3 separate regions of the Homo sapiens genome follow, and regions 1 and 2 are each linked to region 3. Evidence: fine-mapped expression QTL. A gene starts in region 3. Each other region holds a variant in brackets. All regions are shown on one strand. Distances are from middle to middle.

Region 1 (7,586 bases), 130 kb before region 3:
GGATATCAGGATTTTTAAAACTTTCCAAGTGATTCTGATATGGAATCAAGATATCCACAAAGCAGGTGTGAGGCAGGGTAGACAATCAGATTCCATTTTAACTAAGCACTTGTGTGCAAGGAAACCACAAATATCTCATTTAATCCTTACAACAACTTGTGTGTATATCATTCCCATTTTACAGGCCGGGAAACTGAAGCTCAGAGAGGTGAAATCACCCACCTGACATCACATAGGTATTTAAAAGCAAATTGGTCTGACTCTCCAGCACCATGTCTCCTCTGCAACCCAGGCCCCTCTCCCAAATTAGCACTTGGTAACCATCAGAAAGGAAGAGTGGGCTGTGCCTACTGGCTGGCAAGCCTGGAATCTATAGGCAGAGTTGATCTACTGGCTAGAGAACATAGGACTTAAGGGTATTTGAGCTCCTTAACTTTTAAAATACCCTGCAACTAGAAAGAAAGTCAACAAACATGAAAGCTGGAGAGAACTTAGACCAATTTGTAAAAGCACTCATTTTTAAAACCAAAAACCCAAGGCCCAAAGACAGCAGACTGGCAAAACATGGTCAGATGCCTTCTGAATTTCAAAAAAGCTATCAGTCATTTTTACTTTTCATTGATCCTGAGAACAGGGTCTTCCCCAAACATAAAAACAAAACTCATTTTTACACAGTTTGACTACCACCGTATTATTAGCCATGGTTTCAATTCATTTAGGCAACAGATACCATGCATATACTATGTTCCAGGCACATTCTAGGGAGGAGGGATATTGCAATGAACAAAGACAGATAACACCCCCTGTCCCTCACAGAGCTACATTCTATTCAGTTGGTGCAAAAGAATTGCTGTTTTTGCCACTGAAAGTCACAGCAAAAACCACAATTACTTTTGCACCAACCTAAAAAGCTGATGGGGCAGCAAACTATGAATAGGAGGGAATTTCCTCAACTGGATAAAGAACTTCTTTGCAGCCAACTTCATACTTAATGGTAAGAAATTGGATGCTTTCCCCTTAAGATCAGGAACAAAGCAAGGTGCCTCTCTCTCTACTCCTATTCAACATTTTACTGGAAATCTTAGCGAGTGGAATAAGCCAGAAAAGGAAATAAAAGCTCTACAGATTGAAATGGAAGAAATAACACTATCTTTGTTTGCAGATGATCTGTCTATGTAGAATATCCCAAAGAATTGATCAAAACAAAGACTGCCAGAACAGCACTTACAGCAAGGTTACAAGACACAAAGTTAATATACAACAATCTATTGCTTTTCTATATGCCAGCAATGAATAACTGGAATTTGAAATAAAGAAATAGCAAGGAGATCTGTATGGCTCCAATGGAACTGAAATTAGAATTAGGTTGAGTAAGGGAAAGAAGCAGATGGAGGCTAGCAGCAGAACATGATGAAGGGCCCTGTGAGGAAGTTGGCTTTTACTATGAGTGATTTAGGGAGCCACTGGAAGGATCTCAGCAAAGGAGGGATATTATCTGTTGTACCTTCACCCACACTCCTCCACAACACACACACAGACTGCTCCCTGATCCAGTTTTTATTTGTAAATTCAGGTTTTAGTGACCTCCAACTAAAGTAATTATACCCATCAGCTTAGTGAAATGCTAACAGAATTTATCTTGTCAGCAGCAGAACTGCCTGAAGCAGCAACATAATCTAGGTCCTAAATCCTTGAGACAGAGAGGGCAAGATGTAGAGGAAAACTGCCCAATGCTAGGGCATACCTGGTTATCTGGCTAAAGATAGTGGTCATTTGTAAACTCCAGTGGCAGAACTTGCAGGCCCTAGAAAAGACACAGAGAATTGCCCAGCAAGGACTGAGCTAAGGCAGGTGAGTCCCTGAGGAACAGGAGTAGACAAGGTGACAACAGGCAGAAATCCCCAGACTGCCAGGTGCACAGGAAGTCTCCTGCAGGGAGGCACTCCTATCTCCCACTCCAGGGCCTGGGACAGGCACTCTTCCCTGGAATCATAAAAGACAGCAGAGCCTCAAAGTGAGAGTATGGGCTTCACAACAGATTCAAATCATGGCTCCACCACCTGCTAGAGCTGTAAATATTGGTTCAAATTAATCCATCTCATCTGCACCTTAGTTTCTAATCTATAAATTAGGCATTATAGATGCCTAATATGCCAACATTAGAGCATCCAAATTCTTAAAACAAGTACTTCCAGACCTAAAGAAAGACTTAGTCACATAATTTTAGTGGGGGACTTCAACACCCCTCTGACACAGCATTAGAAAGATCATCGAGGCAAAAAACAAAGAAATACTGGACTTAAATCCAGCAATGACAAACTATACATTCCACCCATCTGCAAATGGCAAATAATCTAAAATTGACCACATGCTTGGCCATAAACCAAGTATCAGTGAATTCAAATCATTGAAATCATATCAACCACACTCTGAGACCACAGTGGAATAACTGCATAAATTAGGCATAACAGCACCCACCTCAGAGGGTTTGTTCTGATAACTAAATAAGACAATACAAGTAACGAACTTGGAACAGCGCCCAGCACATGAAGTACTCAAATGTCAGCTGTTATTATCTTGCTTGCAATATTCTTTCCCTGGAAAGCAGTGCTGGTCGCTGGTCTGCTGTCAACTCTCTCTCTGGACAGCTTTACCAATTGTTCCATGACCCACAGAGCATGTACTGGCTGTGGAGCTTCCTCCCGGCTGCCCTGACTAGGTTGGACAAAGAGTGACTTCCTGCCAGGCTCTGGATCAGAGAGCAGCTTGTCACCTAAGCAGGGTGAGGCTTTCCTCCAGGATGGCCACTTGTCCTCTCCCCAAGCTGCAGGTGTCCATCAGGAGAAATACCAGAGGCCCTCTTGCTCCTCCATACAGCTGACTCTTGAGTATTCCATCCAGTCACTGATTTATGAGAGCAGAGGGACAACTGTCATCAGACCGCCGCTTCCAGGAGGGAAAAGAATAGCATCACCACCACCTATGGGGTAACTGCTTGTACACCACAGAGCTCAGCCAC[G/A]AGGCTGGGACAAGCACTGACCAGAGCATGTTCTGATCTGCACAAGGGGGTGGTAGCTCAAGGGCAGACAGAAGCAGATATGGGCTTGGAGGGGTTCTCTCTGCCTATCAGAGAAGTGGTAGTCAGGGTCTGCCACTGTCATTTCACCATGTCTACCTTCCCAATCTCATCTCCTATCAGTCCCCTACCATGAGTCCCACCCAGATACCAACCCAGGATGGCCCTCCAATAACCCCTCCCTCCTCAAGCCCTGCATTCTTCTTAGCTCATGTGGTAAAGGCTGCAGTGCCCTTCCCAACACTATTTCTCCACTTCTTCCATAGGAAGAGTTCATGTTCCATGTTCCCTTGAGAGAGGGGTGGCAGATGTTCTGCCTATCGGATACAAGAAGTGATGTGTGGCACTTCTGGGTTGTGCCTTAAAAGAAAGGAGCATACTTTCCCTTCACTTCCCTTCCCAGCAGCTGAAAGATAAGCAAGGCAGGGAGCCATTTTGGACACCAAAGAAGAGCAGCACCTGGGGCAACAACGGGGAGAAAGCAAGGCCCAGGAACCTTCAGAGCCTGGTGGAACAACGGGGAGAAAGCAAGGCCCAGGGACCTTCAGATCCTGGTGGAAAAACGGGGAGAAAGCAAGGCCCAGGGACCTTTAGAGCCTGGTGGAACAATGGGGAGAAAGCAAGGCCCGGGGACCTTCAGAGCCTGAGCACAGCCACCATGGGTAACTTGCAGTTCATCCTGAGAGGGAAATAAACTTCTCTGATTTTAGCCAGCTATGTTGTTCTCTCTGTTATGGCACTATAATCCATATTCTAATTAAGCTCACACTGCTCTTTTTGTTTTAAGGGGAGGAGGACATGTTCCTGCGATAAGGCCAGTGTAGTCCCATGAGAAAAGGTGTGGATGGCAATGAAGAGGTGCCCACTCCAGTGCCCCAAGGCTCACTTTGGCCTAAAACTGAGGTTTACCCAGGGTGAGAGCACGACTCAAACAGATGTAGCAATAAGTAATAATAAGCACAGGAGAGGCCCTCTTTGACACTAGAAAATTCTTTCTGAGCCTAACCTGTATTCAGGACTGAACTCACCTAAGTAGAAAGAAACCCAAGGGAGCCTGAGCTGGCTACTGGAAGAGAATTTATTAAGTGACTCTGGTATACTGAGAAACCTCATTTGGAAAAGCAAATCTAAACTGACCTTCTAAATTCATTTTGCAACTAAAGGCTTGGCTGAGAGCAGAAGAACCATATGAGTGACAGGATTACAGAAGGCTGGCATCAGAAGGGGCACCTTAGGGACAGATGATTGGTTTATTCCCCTTGATGCCTCTGAACCCTTGCTATGCCTATTCCTGGCACAGGGATGCTTTTCCTCTTCCCGGCTTCTGGTCCAATTCCTATCTAGCCTCACTCCTTAAGGCGTGGGTTAGTCTGCTCAGGCTGTTATAACAAAACATTATGTTATATGTGGCTTAAACAACAGATATTTCTTTCTCACAGTTCTGGAGGTTGGAAACTACAAGATCAAGGTGCCAGACTATTTGGTTCCCAGTGAGGCCCCTCTTCCCAGTTTGCAGATGGCCATCTTCTTGCTACATCCTCACATGGGGGGATAGGGGGAGCTCTGATCTCTTCCTATAATGCCACTAATCCCATCATGAAGGCCCCAACCTCATGACATCATTTAAACTTAATTATTGCCAAATACCATCACACTGAGGGTTAGGACTTCAACAGATGAATTTTAGGGAGGAAGGCAGGACACAATTCAATTCACAGCAAGGCCTAACTCAAATGTCACCTTCTCCTCTCAACAGTCCAGCTCCTACCCTACAGGCAAAATCTGAATCTGTGTTCCCACAGCACTTTACATGTTCCTAACACAGAACTTAGCTTTCTCACGTTGTTTATGAGCTTTTCTCCCCACATGAAAGGGCCTGGTCTCATGCATACCTAGCTCTACATCATCACTTTAGAAATGAGGAGATCAGCCAGGCACGGTGGCTCATCTCTGTAATCCCAGCACTTTGGGAGGCCAAGGCAGGCAGATCATCTGAGGTCGGGAGTTTGAGACCAGCCTGACCAACACGGAGAAGCCCAGTCTCTACTAAAAATACAAAATTAGCCAGGCATGGTGGTGCACGCCTGTAATCCCAGCTACTCGGGAGGCTGAGGCAGGAGAATCATTTGAATCCGGGAGGCGGAGGTTGTGGTGAGCCAAGATCGCACTATTGCACTCCAGCCTGGGCAACAAGAGTGAAACTTCATCTCAAACAAACAAAAAAAAAGAAAGAGAAAGAAAGAAAAGAAAGGAAGGAAGGAAGGAAGGAAGGAAGGAAGGAAGGAGAAAAGAAATCAGATCTGTGAAGAGACCTGCCTGAGATCACAAAGGGAACAGTGGCAGGTTGCTACTAAGATCAGTCTACGGACTCTCAGACCAGAACTACTACTTCTGCCCAACCTTACCAACCCAGATATTGAGGAGTCCAAAGCCAAGAAATCTCTGCAGGGTACTTTCGAGTCCCAGTGGTTTTGCTGGAAGCCCCAGGAATCTCCATCAGAGAAATCCATGAGAACCCAAGTTCGGGACCACTTGAGGCCAGGAGTTCAAGACCAGCCTGGACAACATGGCAAAACCCCATCTGTACTAAAAATACAAAAATTAGCTGGGTGTGGTGGTGAATGCCTGTAATACCAGCTATTTGGGAGGCTGAGGCAGGAGAATTGCTTGAACCCCGAAGGCAGAGGTTGCAGTGAGCCAAGATCACGCCACTGCACTCCAGGCTGGGCAACAGAGTGAGATTCTGTCTCAAAAAAAAAAAAAAAAAAAAAAAAATCAGAGCATTCAGCATAAAGGGGGTACTTTTTTACAGTTACTATTATCACGCAGCACAAATCCTATAATATTCTGTTTTTCACTTAAGCAGAATGTCAAGTTCACACTGCCTGTAAACTAAAACACAGGCTGCCTGGTATCAGAGTCCCACTGTGAAACGTCTCCCAGTGAAACGTCTCCCCAACTGAACTCCCCACACTGTCTGAAATTCCACCCTGATAAGAGCATTCTCAGAAGCCTGAGGTGAAACCACAATACTATTAAGTTGGTTCTATTCTTTCAAATTTTTGGTTATCAGATTAGTCAAGTATCCAGTAAAACCCTGACAAACTGGGGCAAGGCTTTGATGGGAGAAAGGTAAGGGGTGATGCCTGGAACAGGGGTGCCTTCTGGAGAGCTGCAGCAGAATAAGGCAGCCACACTACAGAATCTTCAGCATACACTACTATGTTCACTCTCATTGATAGCCAGCTACGTGATAAACACTGAACATGTCTACTGAGCCCCATCCACATATGATAATACCGAGGCTCTTGCTGGTTAGTGGCACAGTCAGGGCTGGTGGCCAGGCTTTCAATTTTCCATCTGGATCACAGCAAGATGGATGGTCTAGTTCCTTCGGTCTGGTAACTGCTAAACGTATCAGCAATGAGGCATGGGAGATACATTTGGGTAATCGCCATGTTGTCTAGGAGGCTGTGTCCACTTGACATGTGGATGGGGGTACATTCCTTCCTGGCTGCACAAATCCTGCCCTCACTGAGAGGGTACAGAAATGATCAGACTGTGCCCTCACTGAGAGGGTACAGAAATGATCAAACAGTGGGTGAGTGGTCTGTGTGGCACATTCTGCTGCTAAATTGATCAATTTTACAAAGGACCACTTTAAACAAATTAAAACATAAGGACTTAAAAAACCTTTTGGCAACAAGTTAAAGCATAGGGATTTAAAAGACTCTTGTTTCCCTTAAAGCATTTTATAATTGTCCAACCCTACTAGTCTAGTGAGTATACAGCAGGCCTTATTTTTAAAAACTGGTAAACAAAAATCTCCAATTCACCAAGAAATTTCCAAATCCCATTGAAAAGGATCCTTCAGTATTAACAGAGAGAATAAAATCCCAGGTCAGTATAATGCATGAGACCCAAGAGGGAGACATGAAAGTAGAAAATCAATTACTCAAAAAAAAAAAAAAAAAAGAAAGGATAGGAAAGGAAAGGAAAGGAAACGAAAATCACTCAAAAAAAAAAAAAAAGAAAAAAGAAAAGAAAATCAGTCACTCAGGCTTCTTAATTATACCAAAATGGCAATGTCTTGTCTATTGGTTTTGTAGCTCATCAGTGGTTGGCTGAGTTCAGAACTCAGATCTCTGACTGCCTGGGTAAATGCTTTCACTGAGATAAAGAGACTGTGTATTCAGAGTTTATTATAGGCCAGACATTTTACAAAGCATTTCCCCTTGGGTCATTTAGTGTAACAAAGTTATGAGGTAGGTAGTACTATTATCTCTATTTCACAGATGGGAAAATTGAAGTTTCGCAAGTTCTCTGCCCAAGGTCCTGGAGCAAGCAAGCGGTAGAGCCTGTATTCAAACTCAGGTGAGCTGACACATATTACTCAACATAAACCAAGTCATGCAAGTACAGTTAACCAAGAATCCCAAAGCCAGGTGGTAGATCAGCATCTGGCCAGGAATACCTGCCCCACGCTCAGGTGCATTATACTGAGCAAAGT
Region 2 (7,586 bases), 770 kb before region 3:
TAATCTAGAAAACAGGGATGAACGTATGCCATTGCAGTGAGGGACCGTGAAGGTAGTCAGGCCCGTGCGGGCCCATGGCCATGTTACCATGGCCATCATCACCCTGACATGTCCCTGGGAAAAATGAGCTGAGGGATGGAATATCCGTTAGGAGATCCGAGGAGGGGGGCCAGTTTCTATACCTTCTTGGCAAGAAAGGCATGAAATGGTTTGATTTCTGGAAAGGTCTAAAACAGATGGAGAATGTGCATTGGGCCAGCGGGGGAGATCACGAAGGCAGGAGTCTTGGGGCATGGGCTGTTCTGGCCTAGCCTTTGCGGCGACAATAAGGAGGTGGCCTGGCTTTTATAGTTCTGGTGACAGAACCTGGGAGATGGGTGATGTCTGTTCTGGCCCTTAGGGGCAGAGGCACTGAATGCCTGGGCCCTGTTCCACTTGCATGCAGAGTGGTGGTAGGGGGCGCCACGGACCTGAGGCTTCCTCGTCGAAGCAGGCAAAGGCGTTGCGAATCACATCCTCGGGGTCCGTGCCGTTCAGCTTCTCCCCAAACATGGTGAGGAACATGGTGAAGTTGATGGGCCCCGGGGCCTCGCTCATCATGCCCTCCAGGTATTCGTCTGTGGGGTTCTTCCCTGTGGCAGGTGGGGTGTTCCAGCCTGTGGTCCTGGGCCCTCTGTCCCCAGCTGGGACAACTTGCACCCCCGTCCCCCACCCCTGCCCTTCACCGCTCCGTGTGAGACGGGAGGTAGTGGGTTTTGTGAACTGGAAAGCATGGCTCTAGCGCAGCCACAGCAGTGGGCGCCCGGAGTCCCTGGCTGCTCCCACCAGTTTCCTCCTGTGGCCTGGATGTCAGCAGCCGGCAGTGCTCACTAAAGTGTAATAAGAACAACCCTCTGCAGACTGCTCGCTGTGGCTGGTCGACCACGTGCCTTATTGCATTTAACTTTCACCACCCTGTGAAGTCAGCATTCTTACCCACTTCACAGGTATGGAAGCTGAGGCACAGAGAGGCCAGGTGACTTGTCCAGGGTCAGACAGCAAGTAAGGAGGAGACTTGAGTAGACCTGGCATTTGAACCCAGGCAGCCTAACTCCAAAGTCCAGACACAGTGCTTTGCTGTCAGACAGGCCTGGGTTTGGATCCCAGCTGTGCACCTTGGTTTTCCCCATCTCTTAGGGGAATTGTGAAGACAGTAGTTGCAAAAGGCTCATAACAATGACTGGCACAGGCCTATGGACTGGAATCAACTGCTGGGTTTCTATTGCAGCCCCACTACTTGGTAGCTGTGTGACCTTGGGTAAATTACTTAACCTCTCTGAGCCTCAGTTTCCTTGTTTGTAAAGTGGGAATAATTGTATCTGTTCAATAGGATTGCTTTGAGATTTAAGATAATACCTGCAGGGCTTCTTCTTATTATTATATTTGCTGCTCTTGTTTTTAACTTGAAGATAAGGGTGTGACTCACCTGCAGACCCACGGATATGAGCTACAAACACAGTGCATGTTTTTCTGGGTGGACACCCAGGGCTGTCATGAAGTCTCAGGGGTTCAGGGGCCTGGGTGCAGGGTGTGGCCTTGGAAATAGGAAGTTTTCATGTCCCTGAGCCTCACATACCCTGCTGTGTCCCCCTGGGATGGCCATGGAAGCTGAGGCCCAAGAGGAGCTGTGACGCCAGGACACTGGGGTACTTAAGGCCAGCCCCTTCTCTCACCAGGCCTCAGTCCTTCCACGAAGCTGGGAAAGCCCCAGATAAGAACCCTGGAGTTGGCCAGGCGTGGTAGCTCACACCTGTAATCCCAGTACTTTGGGAGGCCAAGATGGGCTCTGGAGTTTGAGACCAGCCTGGCCAACATGGCGAAACCCTGTCTCTACTAAAAATACAAAAATTAGCCGGGCATGGTGGCGCACGTCTGTAATCCCAGCTACTGGGGAGGCTGAGGCAGGAGAATCTCTTGAACCTGGGAGACGGAGGTTGCAGTGAGCCGAGATGGTGCCACTCCAGCCTGGGCAACAGAGTGAGATTTTGTCTCGGGGGGAAAAAAAAAGAACCCTGGAGTTTACTTCCTGCCAGGTGACCTCCTGGGGGAGGGAGCCTTCAAGCGAGCCTGGCCAGAAGCGGGGAGAGGTTTGGTGCTCAGGGCCGGGGGCAGCGTGCTGTCAGTTCTCCCACTCAGGTTTGCCTGGTTCTCCTGCTCAGTGCCTCGTGGGGAAATGTCAGGGTCATGGCCCCATTTCACAGGAAGAGGAAAGTGCACAGGGCCCTACCAGGGACTGACTCTCTGGCCTCAAAGCTCGAGGCTTGACTGTCACGGGGCTGTGTCCTCTGGTCCTGGACTCTCCCTCCCCCAGGCAGTGTCTGGTCTGGATGCTGTCACTCGGCATGAGGGGTACGCGGGAACTGGGCTGAGAGTGGCTGGCTGTGGCCAGCACTTTGGGAGGGATGTTGGGGCAGGCCCGTGGGTTGGGGCATGGTCTGTGGAGGCCTTGCCTCTGGGCCTGTGTTTCCCCATCTGCAGTAGAGAATTGGACTTGATTTTTGTACCCTGTTAGTTCTAAGGTCCTGATCCTGAGGAAGTCACTGGGACCAGAGAGGCTATGAGAGCCTGAGATGGGTGACCTCTGAAGGAGGGGAGCTGGTCTGGCCGCCCCTCTAGGCCTCAGTTTCCCCATCTGTGCAGTGGGCAGCCTGCAGTTCACACTTTCATTTAGATGCTGACCTCTTTCTTTCCTTTCTTTCTGTTTTGAGACGGAGTCTTGCTCTGTCGCCCAGGCTGGAGTGCAGTGGCGTGATCTTGGCTCACTGCAAACTCCGCCTCCCAGGTTCACACCATTCTCCTGCCTCAGCCTCCCGAGTAGCTGGCGCCCGCCACCACGCCCAGCTAATTTTTGTATTTTTAGTAGAGACGGGGTTTCACCATGTTAGCCAGGATGATCTCGATCTTCTGACCTCGTGATCCGCCCGCCTTGGCCTCCCAAAATGCTGGGATTACAGGCGTGAGCCAC[A/C]GCGCCTGGCCAGCTGACCCCTTTCTTTAAATGAAATGATACCTGGCAGCCCAGTGCACAAATCTGCCTAAGACAGGCCCACTGTGGAGTCAGCCTGTCTACGTTCAGACCCTGTGGTGGACCTGCTTTGTGCTTCAGTTTCCCTGTTTTTTTTTTTTTTTTTGAGATGGAGTCTCGCTCTGTTGCCCAGGCTGGAGTGCAGTGGGGCGATCTCGGCTCACTGCAACCTCCGCTTTCCGGGTTCACGCCATTCTCCTGCCTCAGCCTCCCAAGTAGCTGGGACTACAGGCGCCCGCCACCACGCTCGGCTAATTTTTGGTATTTTTAGTAGAGTCAGGGTTTCACCGTGTTAGCCAGGATGGTCTCGATCTCCTGACCTATTGATCCGCCCGCCTTGGCCTCCCAAAGTGCTGGGATTACAGGCGTGAGCCACCGCGCCCGGCCCAGTTTCCCTGTTGAATGGACTAAGTTAATGGCAACTATTCTCTAAGGTGGACACCACGCGTCTCACTACACAGGAGGTGCCCTGTAAATGATTGGCAGAGCCTGCCTGGCCTCATCCATCTCACCCCTGTCCCTGTCCCAGCTCACCCAGCGAGGCCAGCATGTCGTGCAGGTCCTCCTTGTCAATGAAGCCATCACGGTTCTGGTCAATCATGTTGAAAGCCTCCTTAAACTCCTGGATCTGGGACTGGTCAAACATTGCGAAGACATTGGATGTGGCCCGCTGTGGCCGCTTCTTGGTGGTCTTGGCTTTGGCCCGCTTGCTGGACATCTTGGCTTCTGGTGGGTGGGGCTTCCCTGCAGGAAGGGGTGGGGGTTGGGTGGCCCTGTGACTCTGGGCCAGGGAATCTTCCTGCCTCCCCCAGACTGGCTTTTAGCACTTCGGCCTGGCATTCAAGGCTGCCCACGGATTTGGGGCTCCCACCACCCAGTTCTTCACAAAAGCAGACAAGTGTGGCTGTGTGATTCTGAACAACTTCCTCTACCTCTCTGAGCCCGAGAGTCTTCATCTGGGACTGGAGACATGAGGAGTGCCCAGCAGTAGGGATTAACTGACTCAGTGCCCGAGAGCTCCTGGAACAGTGCCGGGCATGGAATCAGCTATTTTGGCTGTGACTGTTTGGGTAAAACACTTAGGATTGGGCTTGGTGCCAACCATTACCATGCTTTATCTCCTTTAATCCTTAATAGCATTTACACTGTCCCTCTCTCTTTCCAAGTGACAAGGTGGGTCCACTCGTGGGAGTCAGTGAGGGCTCTCCTGGGCTGCCATCCAGGCTCCCTGGCCCTGCAGGAAGGAGCTGGATCAGCATTCCTGCATTCCTGCCGTTCCTCACTCTCCCACTCCATCCCTCTGCTGCCCGCCTGAGGTTCTAGGAGGCTCTGGGCAGTCAAACCCCCGCCTGTCCACCTCAGGGAGCTTGACCAGCCCCCCAGTGGTGAGTGGTCACAGACTGATCCTGGGTCCCACTCCTTGTTCTCACTCCCCACTGCTTATCGGGGTGTGAGGCTTGCTTGGGCTGAGAACCCCAGCTTCTTCACCCTTGCTTAGACCTGGCTTCTTAGCCTCCAGCCGGCCTCTTCTGTCCCATACAGACCCTGACCTACACCTATCATTGTGAAGCCCTTGAAGGTTCCTGCCGCCCCTCAGAGCAAGTCTGGGTCCCTCATCCTGGCATTCAAGGCCCTGTGTGAGTCCCTCCTGGCCTCTCTGACAGCCCTCGTGGTGTCCCTCTTGTGACCCACAATCCTACCCTTCTGACCTCTGCAGTTCCCTGGACACTCCCAGGCTTTCCTCTGTGGTCCCCTCCTCCCCTGTGCTCTTTCTTCTCCAGCCCAGTTCTTGAGACCGCCCCCCTCTCCTAGGGAGCTGTTCCCTGTACCCTTGCTTCCACAGTAAACACTTAAAGATCTCTCTCCCTTGTGGGCCAGCATAGATCCCCCAGTTTACACCAATCCCAGGCCATAGTTGGGCTAACAGATGCTTGTTTGATGAATGACTATATGAAGGCAACTACGGCCAGTCTGCTGCTTCTACTGTACAGATGGGGAAACTGAGACCAGGCCTGGGACTGTTTCCCTGAATGCTTGCCACAGCTTGTGGGGATATGCGCCTGAAGACCCAGTGCCTCCTTCCCTCGGCTGGGGCAGTGGGCCTGGCTGAGGTTCCAGGACTGCGGCCCCTCTTCCCTCTGCCCAAACCCCCGGGCCCAGGGCCTCCAGGAAGCCTCCTCTGCCTGTTGTTCACCCCAAGCTGTGTGGTTGCAACTTGAGCTGTTTCCAGGCCTTCCTCCCATGACTCTGTTGAAGTCATTCTCGGTCCTTGGCCTTTGAGATCATCAACCCTGGACTGGGATCCCGGCCAGCCCCAGCTGGTCCCCAGGGCCATCACTGCCTGTAGTCATGAGACAGTGGTTGCCCGTGTCCCACGGACCGACACACCCAGCCCTCAGTGTTTCTTGCATGGTTCAGGAAGGTAGACAGAATTCCTTCTCACCCATGACCTAGTTGGGAGTGCCATTGTCCCCAGATGCCGGCCCCCTCCTCTCCCGTGCTTTAGAGGGGCCTAGTCCTTCCCTGAGTCCAGTGTTCTCGGGAACTTTGACTCCTGGTGCCCACAGAAGGCTGCATGCAGAGAGGCAGTGCACTGTGCCCAACAGAGGCTGTGATGGCCATCACTGTCCCCACCACACTCTATGAAGCTCTAGGGCAGGCATGGCCAGGCCACCCACAGCTGGGTCTGAGCCCAGCTGGGCCCCTCTGCCTTCATGGCCACCCGGTCTGCACTCTCTGCTGTGGTGTGGCTGGGAGCACTGTACTTAAGGGCTTGCACAAGGCCGCCATGTCCACCCCAGCAATTGTGGGAAGTGGTGAGCGGAGGCAGGGGTGCCCCCATGGTGCAGCTAGGAAAAGAGGCCCCAGAAGGGGAGTGGAGTGCCCATGAGAGGGGGAGGGGCCACCTGGAAGACAGGATTCCTGGGCTAGGTTTGGGTCAGTGGAGAGCAAACTTGGCTGCTGGTGCCCTCGAGGCTTGAACAAAACAGGGAGCCCCAGTCCTCAGGCGGGCCTGTGGCAGTGGAGTGGGAAAGGGCTCTGTGTATCCAGAGGCGCCTTCTAGAACTGGTGGAGGGGCGAGGGGCAGGCATGGGTGGGGCCTTTAGTTCTGAGGCCATCGCTTCCCCCTTCAGGTGCCCTAGACACCAGGGGTCAGCACTGATACTTGGCCTGGATGTGACTGGATGCCATGTCCCCCATCCTGGTGTCCAGATTCCCACCATAACAGAAAAGGCTGGGCTGAAGCCAGCACAGGGCAGTGCCCCCATGACCTCCAGCCCCTGGAGCTGGGCAGGCCAGATGCCTCCTTCTCAGTGCACCTCATCTGAGTCTCCTCCTTAGAGCAGCTGGAGGGCTGGGAAGAGCAGGGATCAGGTTCTCCCAGCCACTAGTCCTCGTCCTGCCCCCTAGGGGTGAGTCCATCAGGGCCCTCCGCAGACCTTCCCCACCCACAGGCGAGATGACCCAGAGAGGGGAAGGCCCGGGTCCCTGCATACAGCACTGGCTGTGTCGGAAGGGCCCCCTGGTCTCGGTCCCTTTCCCCTGGCCCAGGGTGTAGGGATGGGAGATGGGGAGGGGACACAGATGCTGTGGGGGCGTGGAGTCCCACAGGGCTGTTTCTCCATCTGTGACACACATGCCTTTACTGGGCCAGGGGGAACTGACGACTGCAACCCTCTCCCCAGCACCCTTGTACCCGGGCTCCCCAGCCCCCCCCGGAGCTCTGGGCTTGGCATCTCCAGCTCCTCAGCAAAGGGGCAGGGCCTGGACGATGGCCTTCCCTTGCCGCAGGACCACTGCTTCTCAGAGGCCAGAACAGCCTTCCTGCTGCCCGGCCCCTGGCCAGAGTCCCTGTCGGCCCCCAGCAAACTCGCTGCCCCAGCTCACCCCTCAGTCCGTGCCCAACAGACCCTACCACGTCCCAGTCCGTGGGGCCCGCCTTTGCCCCCCGTGACAGCCGGGTCGGGCCCGGGCCACCTCTCATCTCCAGCCCTGGGCCGTTAGGCCTGTCCTCAAGACCCCCGGGGCCCCGGATCCCACCTGGTGCGGAGAAGGCGCTTGGGCTCGCTGGGTGCGTGGAACTGGGCCGGCCGTCGGGTCTGGACTCCAGGCGGGGGCGGGGCGTGGCGGCCGGGCCTTACAAGGCAGAAGAATGTGCGCGGGGCGGGGCCGCGGGCGGGGTGCGGGGGCCCTCGGCTGCCGTCCGGCCTTATTTGGCCTCGACCCACGGGCTGGCAGGCGGGGGCGCTCTGGGGTGAGCCCCCCTTCCTTGCTGTGCCAGCCCGGGCTGCACAGAGGGCCTTGTAGGGAGGGGAGGTGATGGGGTGAGCAGGCAATGGGAGAGGGGGTGTGGGGGTTCGCTCTGGGCCACCCCTTCCCCTCCAGAGAGGCAAACGGAATGTCCAGGGCCGCTTCCCCAGAGGCCTCCCACTTGTATGGGCCGTGGGAGTGCAGCTTCCCCTGACGGGCAACGGCTCTCGACGTGGGGAGGGCAGAGGCGGTGGGTGGGGGGGCTCCCAGGGAC
Region 3 (7,586 bases):
CCCAACACTTTGGGAAGCTAAGGTGGAGGACTGCTTGAGCCCAGAAGTTCAAGACCAACCTGGGCAAAATGGCAAGATCTCATCTCTACAAAAAATTTAAAATTAGCCAGGTGTGGTGGCACGTGCCAGTGGTCCCTGAAACTCAAGAGGCTGAGGGGAGGATCGCTTGAGCCCAGAAGGTTGAGGCTGCAGTAAGCCGTGATCACACCACTGCACTCCAGCTTGGGTGACAGAATGAGACCCTGTCCCCACCCAAAATATATATATATACACACAGAAACCAAACTCCTGGAGAAGTTTTGGCCTTTTTTTTTTTTTTTTTTTTGGAGACAGAGTCTCACTCTGTGGCCCAGGCTGGAGTGCAGTGGTGCAATTTTGGCTCACTGCAACCTCCGCCTCCCGGGTTCAAGCAAGTATTCTGCCTCAGCCTCCCATGTAGCTGGGATTACAGGTGCCTGCCACCACACCCAGGTAATTTTTCTATTTTTAGTAGAGACAGGGTTTCACTGTGTTAGCCAGACTGGTCTCGAACTCCTGACCTCGTGATCTGCCCGCCTCAGCTCCCAAAGTGCTGGGATTACAAGCATGAGCCACCGTGCCCAGCCAGTTTTGGCCAATATTTAAAAAGCTATGTGCTAGAATAACTAATTGAGTATAACTAATAAAGGGGACTATGGCCTTGTACAAACTTTTAAGGGATGTGTGTCTGGATAAAGATAAAATAAAAAAATATAAGGCTAACCACCACCTTCCTATTTTCACAGAGAAACTTTGTCTTCGTGTATGAAACCTCACTACTAAAAGTGTAGTTCAGTAACATCAGCATCACCTGCAAATCAGAAATGCATTCAGGTCCCATCCTAGATCTACCAAATCAGAATCAGCATTTCAACAAGACCCCTGGGTGACTTACATGCACATTCAAGTTTGAGAAGCACTGGTGTAGAATACTTTAAGGGTGCACTGTACGGCAGTACACAGATAAAGTATCAAGCAGCCAAAGAAAGAGACAAAGTATCTGTTCACTTTCAGTATACTATATTTTATTAGGTACTGCTCAGACAGACCTCCAGTGATTTTTATAAATTTGGTACTTCCTAATGGCCACATCATCTAACTGTGGGATCTATTTCATTTCTGGAAATAACACAACTTAGTTCTAGGGCTTTCATGCACATGAAATATAAAACAGCTTAGTTGTTCTGAAAACATGACAATGGTTAATTTTATTCAAGTCCCAACACTGAGTTCAGAGCACTTCTCCATAGGCCCCATTAATCTCTCCAGGTTTCTGGGAGTATCATTAAATCCCTCGGCATCCTTAAGAAGCAGGTGCTTAGCAAACATCCAGTTTCCAAATGAGAGTCAGAGGGGCTTGATCCTGAAAGTGTAGTATTTTCCTGCCTTGTCCTACTGGTATAGCTTCTTGGACCTAAAATCTCTCTCCTGCTGAGGCCTCATGCAGCTGCACACTCAAGTACTTCCCAAAAGGAAGAAAGGTCAGAGGTATCATTATCCCCAAGCACTTGGAATTCCAGCTGTGGAGAAATTAATCTGGTTGGGGGTTCAGGCTGAGAAGCCCTGAATAAGATCTGTAAAGGCAGAAGGAAACACAAAAGAAAGAACTATTGAGGCTCTTAAGAGATAGGAGGTCCCAGATATTTGCAGATTTTAATGTGAGGATTGGGGGTAAAGATTGACAAGAGGTTGGCCGGGCTTGGTGGCTCACGCCTGTAATCCCAGCACTTTGGGAGGCGGAGGCGGGTGGATCACGAGGTCAGGAGATCGAGACCACAGTGAAACCCCGTCTCTACTAAAAACAAAAAAATTAGACGGGCGCGGTGTGGTGGGTGCCTGTAGTCCCAGCTGCTCGGGAGGCTGAGGCAGGAGAATGTCGTGAACCCGGGAGGCGGAGCTTGCACTGAGCCGAGATCGCGCCACTGCACTCCAGCCTGGGCGACAGAGCGAGACTCTGTCTCAAAAAAAAAAAAAGAAGATTGACAAGAGGATGATTGGGAGAGAAAAATATCCATTTCCCCACCGACACCCCAGGGACAAGAACAAAAAGAGTATCCAAGGGATTCCTCCAAACGACATCTTTTCTTCATAAAAGATAGTAAGAAAGCCAATATAGGGAAGAAGTTTATGGGCTAGAAGCAGTGCTGGAAAAATCTGAGAGTTTTGTTTGTTTTTGTTTTCCAGCACAAGGAGATAAAGCAAAGGAGAAAACAGTATGCACCTAAACAGAATCTTAGGTCTTCTAGAAGTAAACCACCAGGAGGATTCAGAGTCCTGTGATTAACCAAAGAAATGGTTTCCACTTTGAATCCAGCGCTGGGGGCCCAGGCAGTCCTAGACTTGAGGCCACCTCCAGCACAAGGAAAATCTTTATAGCCACTAGGTAAACAGAACAATTCCAAAGAAAGACAGAAACCAGAAAAATGTTTGGGGATTGGGCAAGCCAAGAGAGAAGAGATCCTGCTAGCGGAAAGATAAAAGATAGGCCTATCAAAAACAATGTGCTGGTAGCCCTTTAGGAGAGGAATCCTTCCCTGGGAGGAGAGGAGAATTCAGGAGGTGTGACTCTGGGAAGTGTGCTCAGAAGAAAAGCCCGCAGAAGCACAGAGAAAAGTGCCGTGCTGAACAAAGATACGCACTCGCCAGAGGAAGAGGAAATGGGTGCACTGACCAGACTGGGGAAAGCACCTCAAGGGGAGTGTGGCTCCAAAAAGGGAAGGAAACTGAGGAATGAAAATGTCTTGGATGACAGAAAAGCTAAACAGGGTAGGAAGGCATGCTCAAAACCACAGACCACTCGCCACCTGGAAATGAGAGGACTCACAAAAAGGTGTGCCCCCCAAATTTAAGAAGCATCTGGAAAGTGGCTGCACTCTGAGAGTTGTATAACTAAAAGGGGTTCACCTCGTACATTTGGGGGGCACAAGAAACAAATATACTCCCAGATATGAAAATGAGTCTCCTTCAGGAAATAAGGTAGTTTGATTTGGGGAACACGTGAAAAGTGTGTAACCCCAATAATACAGTCTCGGGAGAAGGCAGTGAATTCCCTTATTTGTGAAACTGGAAATAAGTACCCATAAACTTCAAAATTTGGACATTGTTTTCGGCCCAACCTCAGGTTTGAAGGGCTGAGGAAAGGAAGTGGCCCCTAAATGTAAGAAATTCCAGAAGGCATGCTGTCAGATTTGGGACCTGGAAAAGGGGAATTCTTCCTTGGAGTAGAGGGGATACAAGAAAGTATCCCAAAACTTTAGCTAATGGACCCCAGATCTGAGGACCCGATAACAGGGTGAACCTCTAAATTGGAACGGAAATGCAGAATCAAATTGGAGGCCCGAAAAAAGGAATGTGCTCCCACTTTGGGGGCTGACGGAAGAGGGTACGCCCTAAATTTGGGGGGGGGAGGGCTTTTAGAAATTTAGATAAAATTCCAGAGCTAGAGCTTAAGAAAGGGGGTGTGCCGCCCAGTTTTCAAAACTATAGAGAAAAGGGACACTCCCATATTTGGGGTCTTGAGAAAGGAATGTGCTCCCCAGAATAGGATAAAAAAAGCCAATTTTAAAAAACATATTCCCAAAGCGCAAGGCAATAGCAGAGGCTGCTGATGAGGCTCTAGGTGCCCACACAGCTCAGGCTCGGGCCCTAGGGCTTACCCGCACCCCCAACACGGCCCGCTCCGCGCCCCGGGCCCGCACCCCACGGCCCAGCCCCCTCGGGCGGCGCTGATTGGCGGCAGCCGCCGCCACTCTTGCGGGTAGCCCCGGGGATTGGGCACCGCTCGCACGCCCGCCACGCTCTCAGCAGCAGTCCCAGGGCCTCCCTCCAGGCTGGGCGAGCGGGGCCAGGCGGGGAGCGGGGCCGGGCAGGGGACCGAAGCAGCGGTGGCGTCCGTCGCCGTCCCCGCCCGCACGGCGCGCGCGCAGCGCGGGCCCGGCCCAACCCGGCCCGGCCGGCCGGCTTCGCCTGGCCGCGAGCTCACCTCACGGCCCCACTCCGGCTGCGCCGCTCCAGGACCAACCGACAGAAGGACTCTGCGTGCTCTGCACCACGTGACCCCCGGGACGCGCCCAGCGTATGCCCCGCCCCCCACACACACGCATCATCGCCACCACCGAGTGACGTAAGGTCCCAGCTGCCCCGCCCCCTGCCCCGTCTGCCCGATCACTGTGGCAACGGCCTGCGCAGGCCACGCCCACTACCCTGACGCGCGGGAAACAGGCCCGCGCCCTAGCAGGAACACGAAGTCCCCACTCACTCGTAATCACTGAGATCACCGAAGCCGGGGAATGGACGCTATCCATCACCCGTTAATTTTGCCACCTAAATGCGTCTCAAAGCTTCCCATTTCTCCATCGAAGCGACCACCATCTCTCTCCAAGATGAAGATGGTTTCCACCCTATTACTCTTCGCCGTTCTAATCCATTCTTCGTACACCGGCAGAGAGGTCTTTTCAAAACGCCATCCCCTGCTCAAAGCTCGTTTCCCTCCCTACTCCGGATTAAGATCTAACTCTTCACCTAGACTATCTACCAGGCTCTTCAAAGTCTGGACCTGACCTGCTGCTTTCTTATCCTCACGAATCCAGCTCCCCCACATTCTCAGTGTCCTTCAACTCCGCTAACAATCCAGGTTCTTCTCATCTCAGAGCCTTTGCACTCATTTCTCCCCCACTTTATCATTAACTCCTAGAAAGGTTTCCAATTGCTGCTAAGGATAAGGAGCTGTATTTTCTCTGGGGACGAAGGTCGGAGTTGAAGCCACCCCAAAAGAATATGAGACCAGGAGCAGTGGCTCACGCCTGTAATCCCAACACTATGAGAGGCTGAGGTGGGTAGATCACTTGAGCTCAGGAGTTCGAGACCAGCCTGGGCAACATAGCTAGACCCCCGTCTCTCCAAGAAATACAACAATTAGCCAGGCGTGAACGTGCGCACCTGTGGTCCCAGCTCAACCTTCTGAGTAGCTGGGACTGCAGGCCCATGCCACCATGCCTAGCTAATTTTTTTTTTTTTTTGAGACACGGTCTCACTGTGTCACCCAGGCTGGAGTGCAGTGGCGCAGTCTCGGCTCCTCATAACCTCCACCTCCTAGGCCCAAGCAATTCTCCCACCTCAGTCTCCCAGATAGCTGGAACCACAGGTGTGCACCTGGCTAATTTTTGCATTTTTTTGTAGAGACGCAGTTTCACGATGTTGCCCAGGCTGGTCTTGAATTCCTGGGCTCAAGCAGTCCACCCACCTCAGCCTCCCAGAGTGCTGGAATTAACACCGTACTTGGCCACTTTTTTTTTTTTTTTTTGAGATAGAGTCTCGCTCTGTAGCCCAGACGGGAGTGCAGTGGTGCGATCTTGGCTCACTGCAACCTCTGCCTCCCGGGTTCAAGCAATTCTTTGCCTCAGCCTCCCAAGTAGCTGGGATTACAGGCGCACGCCGCCACGCCCAGCTAATTTTTTATATTTTTTTTAGTAGAGACGGGTTTTCACCATCTTGGCCAGGCTGGTCTTGAACTCCTGACCTCATGATCCGCGCGCCTCGGCCTCCTAAAATACTGCGATTACAAGCGTGAGCCACCGTGCCCGGCCGAGTTTTTTTTTTTTTTTTTTTAGAGACAGGGTCTCACTTTGTTGACCAGGCTGGTCTCAAACTCCTTGGCTCAAGTGATCCTCCTGCCTCAGCCTCCAGAAATGCTGGAATTACAGGCCTCAGCCAGCAAATCCAGCCTGAGGGGTGCTTTTTAAACCAGGGCTGGAAACTAAGGAGGGTATTGCCTCAGTTGAGGTAGTCAGGGCAAAGAGCAGCCCTTAGGTAGAGACACTGTGGAACCAGGGACAAAAGCTTCAGCTACACTTGCTTGGGCAGTACATGTATTCTATTAAAATTGTAACATGGCTGGGCGCGGTGGCTCACGCATGTAATCCCAGCACTTTGGGAGGCCAAGACGGGCAGATTACCTGAGGTGAGGAGTTCGAGACCAGCCTGGCCAACATGGTGAAACCCTCTCTCTACTAAAAATGCAAAAATTAGCCAGGTGTGGTGGTGCATGCCTGTAGTCCCAGCTACTTGAGAGGCTGAGGCAGGAGAATGACTTGAACCCTGGAGGCAGAGGTTGCAGTGAGCCGAGATAGCACCACTGCACTCTAGCCTGGGTGATAGAGCAAGATTCCATCTCAAAAAATAATAATAAAATAAAATAAAATTGTAACAATACAGAAAAGATTCACATGACCCCTGCATAAGGATAAGCATGCAAATTCATGATACATTTCATACTTTTTAAAAAATCAGCAATTTGAGAATCAGTGCCACTCAGTCAAGTAAGTGCTCACATATAGGAAGGGCCTTCCCAAGATCCTCTGGGTTTATGTTTATTAATATGAAATTGCTCAGATGTCAGTGGCTATGGTAGCACACAAAGAACTTTTTGCCCCCCAACCACAATAATGCCAAGAACTCCAGACTCTGTAGCCCCGTATAAATATAGCATGTTTCTTTACTTATTCAACCTGCATTTACCGAGAGTCAAATTCAAGATGGGCACCAAACACTCAGAGCACAATGAGACTTAGGCCCTGCTCTCGAGGAGCTCACAGACTGGTGAAGTAATCATGGCAAGCAAAAGAGAAATATGTTACAAGGGCCCCTGAGCTACAACAGGAGTGCAGGCTTGGAAAACAAACAGGCACAAGGACAGCTCCACCAAGAAAGAGCAACAACAGCTGCTGCCCCCAGCAACACTGCGCACCACTGCTGTGATTCAATCTTAGTATCCCTTTGTCTTTGAGTCACTCACTCAAGAGGCAAGGTCTTGGCCAGCAGCCACTGTCGATTGGCCAATCTCAGGTCACATGGATGAGTCCAGCCTGCCAGGGAAAGAAGAGAGGAATGACCTGCCCCTAAGGGTACTCCCCAAGATGGGAAGTGAGGGTTGGAAGGAGACTGACACTGATCAGGGAAAAATAACTGAATACAGATGAGAAAAAAGTACCTTGTGAGCTAAGCTCTTTCTGATGTAAAAACTTGCAGAAATTTGACTTACCAGCTTCTTCTGAACTGAATATTAATGGAATGCTAGCCAGAGAGCTCCAGTTTACAAGATTTTGGTCTAAAGTCCACTGACTTTAGACCAGAAGTAACATCTACCTTCTGCCTTAAGATCCTCCCCAGCATCTTACTAATACTGTATTTCAAAACTGTAGTCCCAGCCCATAAGCTGAGAGCTCCACAATGAAACCCTGTGTGCATCCATACAAAGTATAGGATAGCACAAAAAGCATCTACCTGCATGGAAGAGTTGTCACTCTCTGTAGGCATTGCTTTTCTTCAATATTCACTTTTTTTACTCAATGGGATAATATATATCTACCAACGCAGAATTGTCACGTTTAAGTTCAATAATATGTGAGAAAATGTACTGAACTACAAAGTTCTATACAACTTCATTTCTAATTTCTTTTTTACTAGATTCAGCATATTCAAAATATTCCTAGCTAAAGAGAAGCAGAATTAAAGATCCAACATGAGATAAAATATTCAATTAGGAAACTGATCTTTCTCAATGTCTACCC

Direction of the effects. Positions count from the first base shown, and alleles are read on the strand shown. Sizes are in standard deviations (SD) of each study's normalised expression. Not every link is listed here.
In carriers of allele C in region 2, the expression in tibial artery of the gene that starts at base 4,065 in region 3 tends to be higher than with A alone (moderate effect, 0.41 SD a copy in GTEx).

Evidence for each region.
Region 1: its variant is fine-mapped to the expression of PHF20 in whole blood (TOPMed, PIP above 0.99).
Region 2: its variant is fine-mapped to the expression of PHF20 in tibial artery (GTEx, PIP 0.90).

What each region holds. Positions count from the first base shown.
Region 1 is chr20:35,902,543-35,910,128 of GRCh38, reverse strand. The region is part of intron 10 of PHF20 (PHD finger protein 20); the gene reads right to left. Among named protein-coding and RNA genes, the nearest start is that of SCAND1, 48 kb to the left of the region's middle. RefSeq lists an enhancer at 3,006-3,506. The variant G/A (reference allele first, on the strand shown) is at 3,020.
Region 2 is chr20:36,541,078-36,548,663 of GRCh38, reverse strand. MYL9 (myosin light chain 9) reads right to left here and starts at 7,145. Exons shown (of 4, transcript NM_006097.5): 1 at 7,103-7,145; 2 at 3,596-3,805; 3 at 471-632. The coding sequence starts at 3,779. The region is part of intron 2 of DLGAP4-AS1 (DLGAP4 antisense RNA 1); the gene reads left to right. RefSeq lists enhancers at 180-1,108, 3,729-4,382, 4,383-5,036, 5,037-5,690, 5,691-6,344 and a silencer at 7,125-7,324. The variant A/C (reference allele first, on the strand shown) is at 3,005.
Region 3 is chr20:35,768,494-35,776,079 of GRCh38, reverse strand. It overlaps PHF20 (PHD finger protein 20), which reads right to left and starts at 4,065. Exons shown (of 18, transcript NM_016436.5): 1 at 4,001-4,065. It also overlaps the pseudogene LOC124904972. RefSeq lists silencers at 2,319-2,613, 3,618-3,997.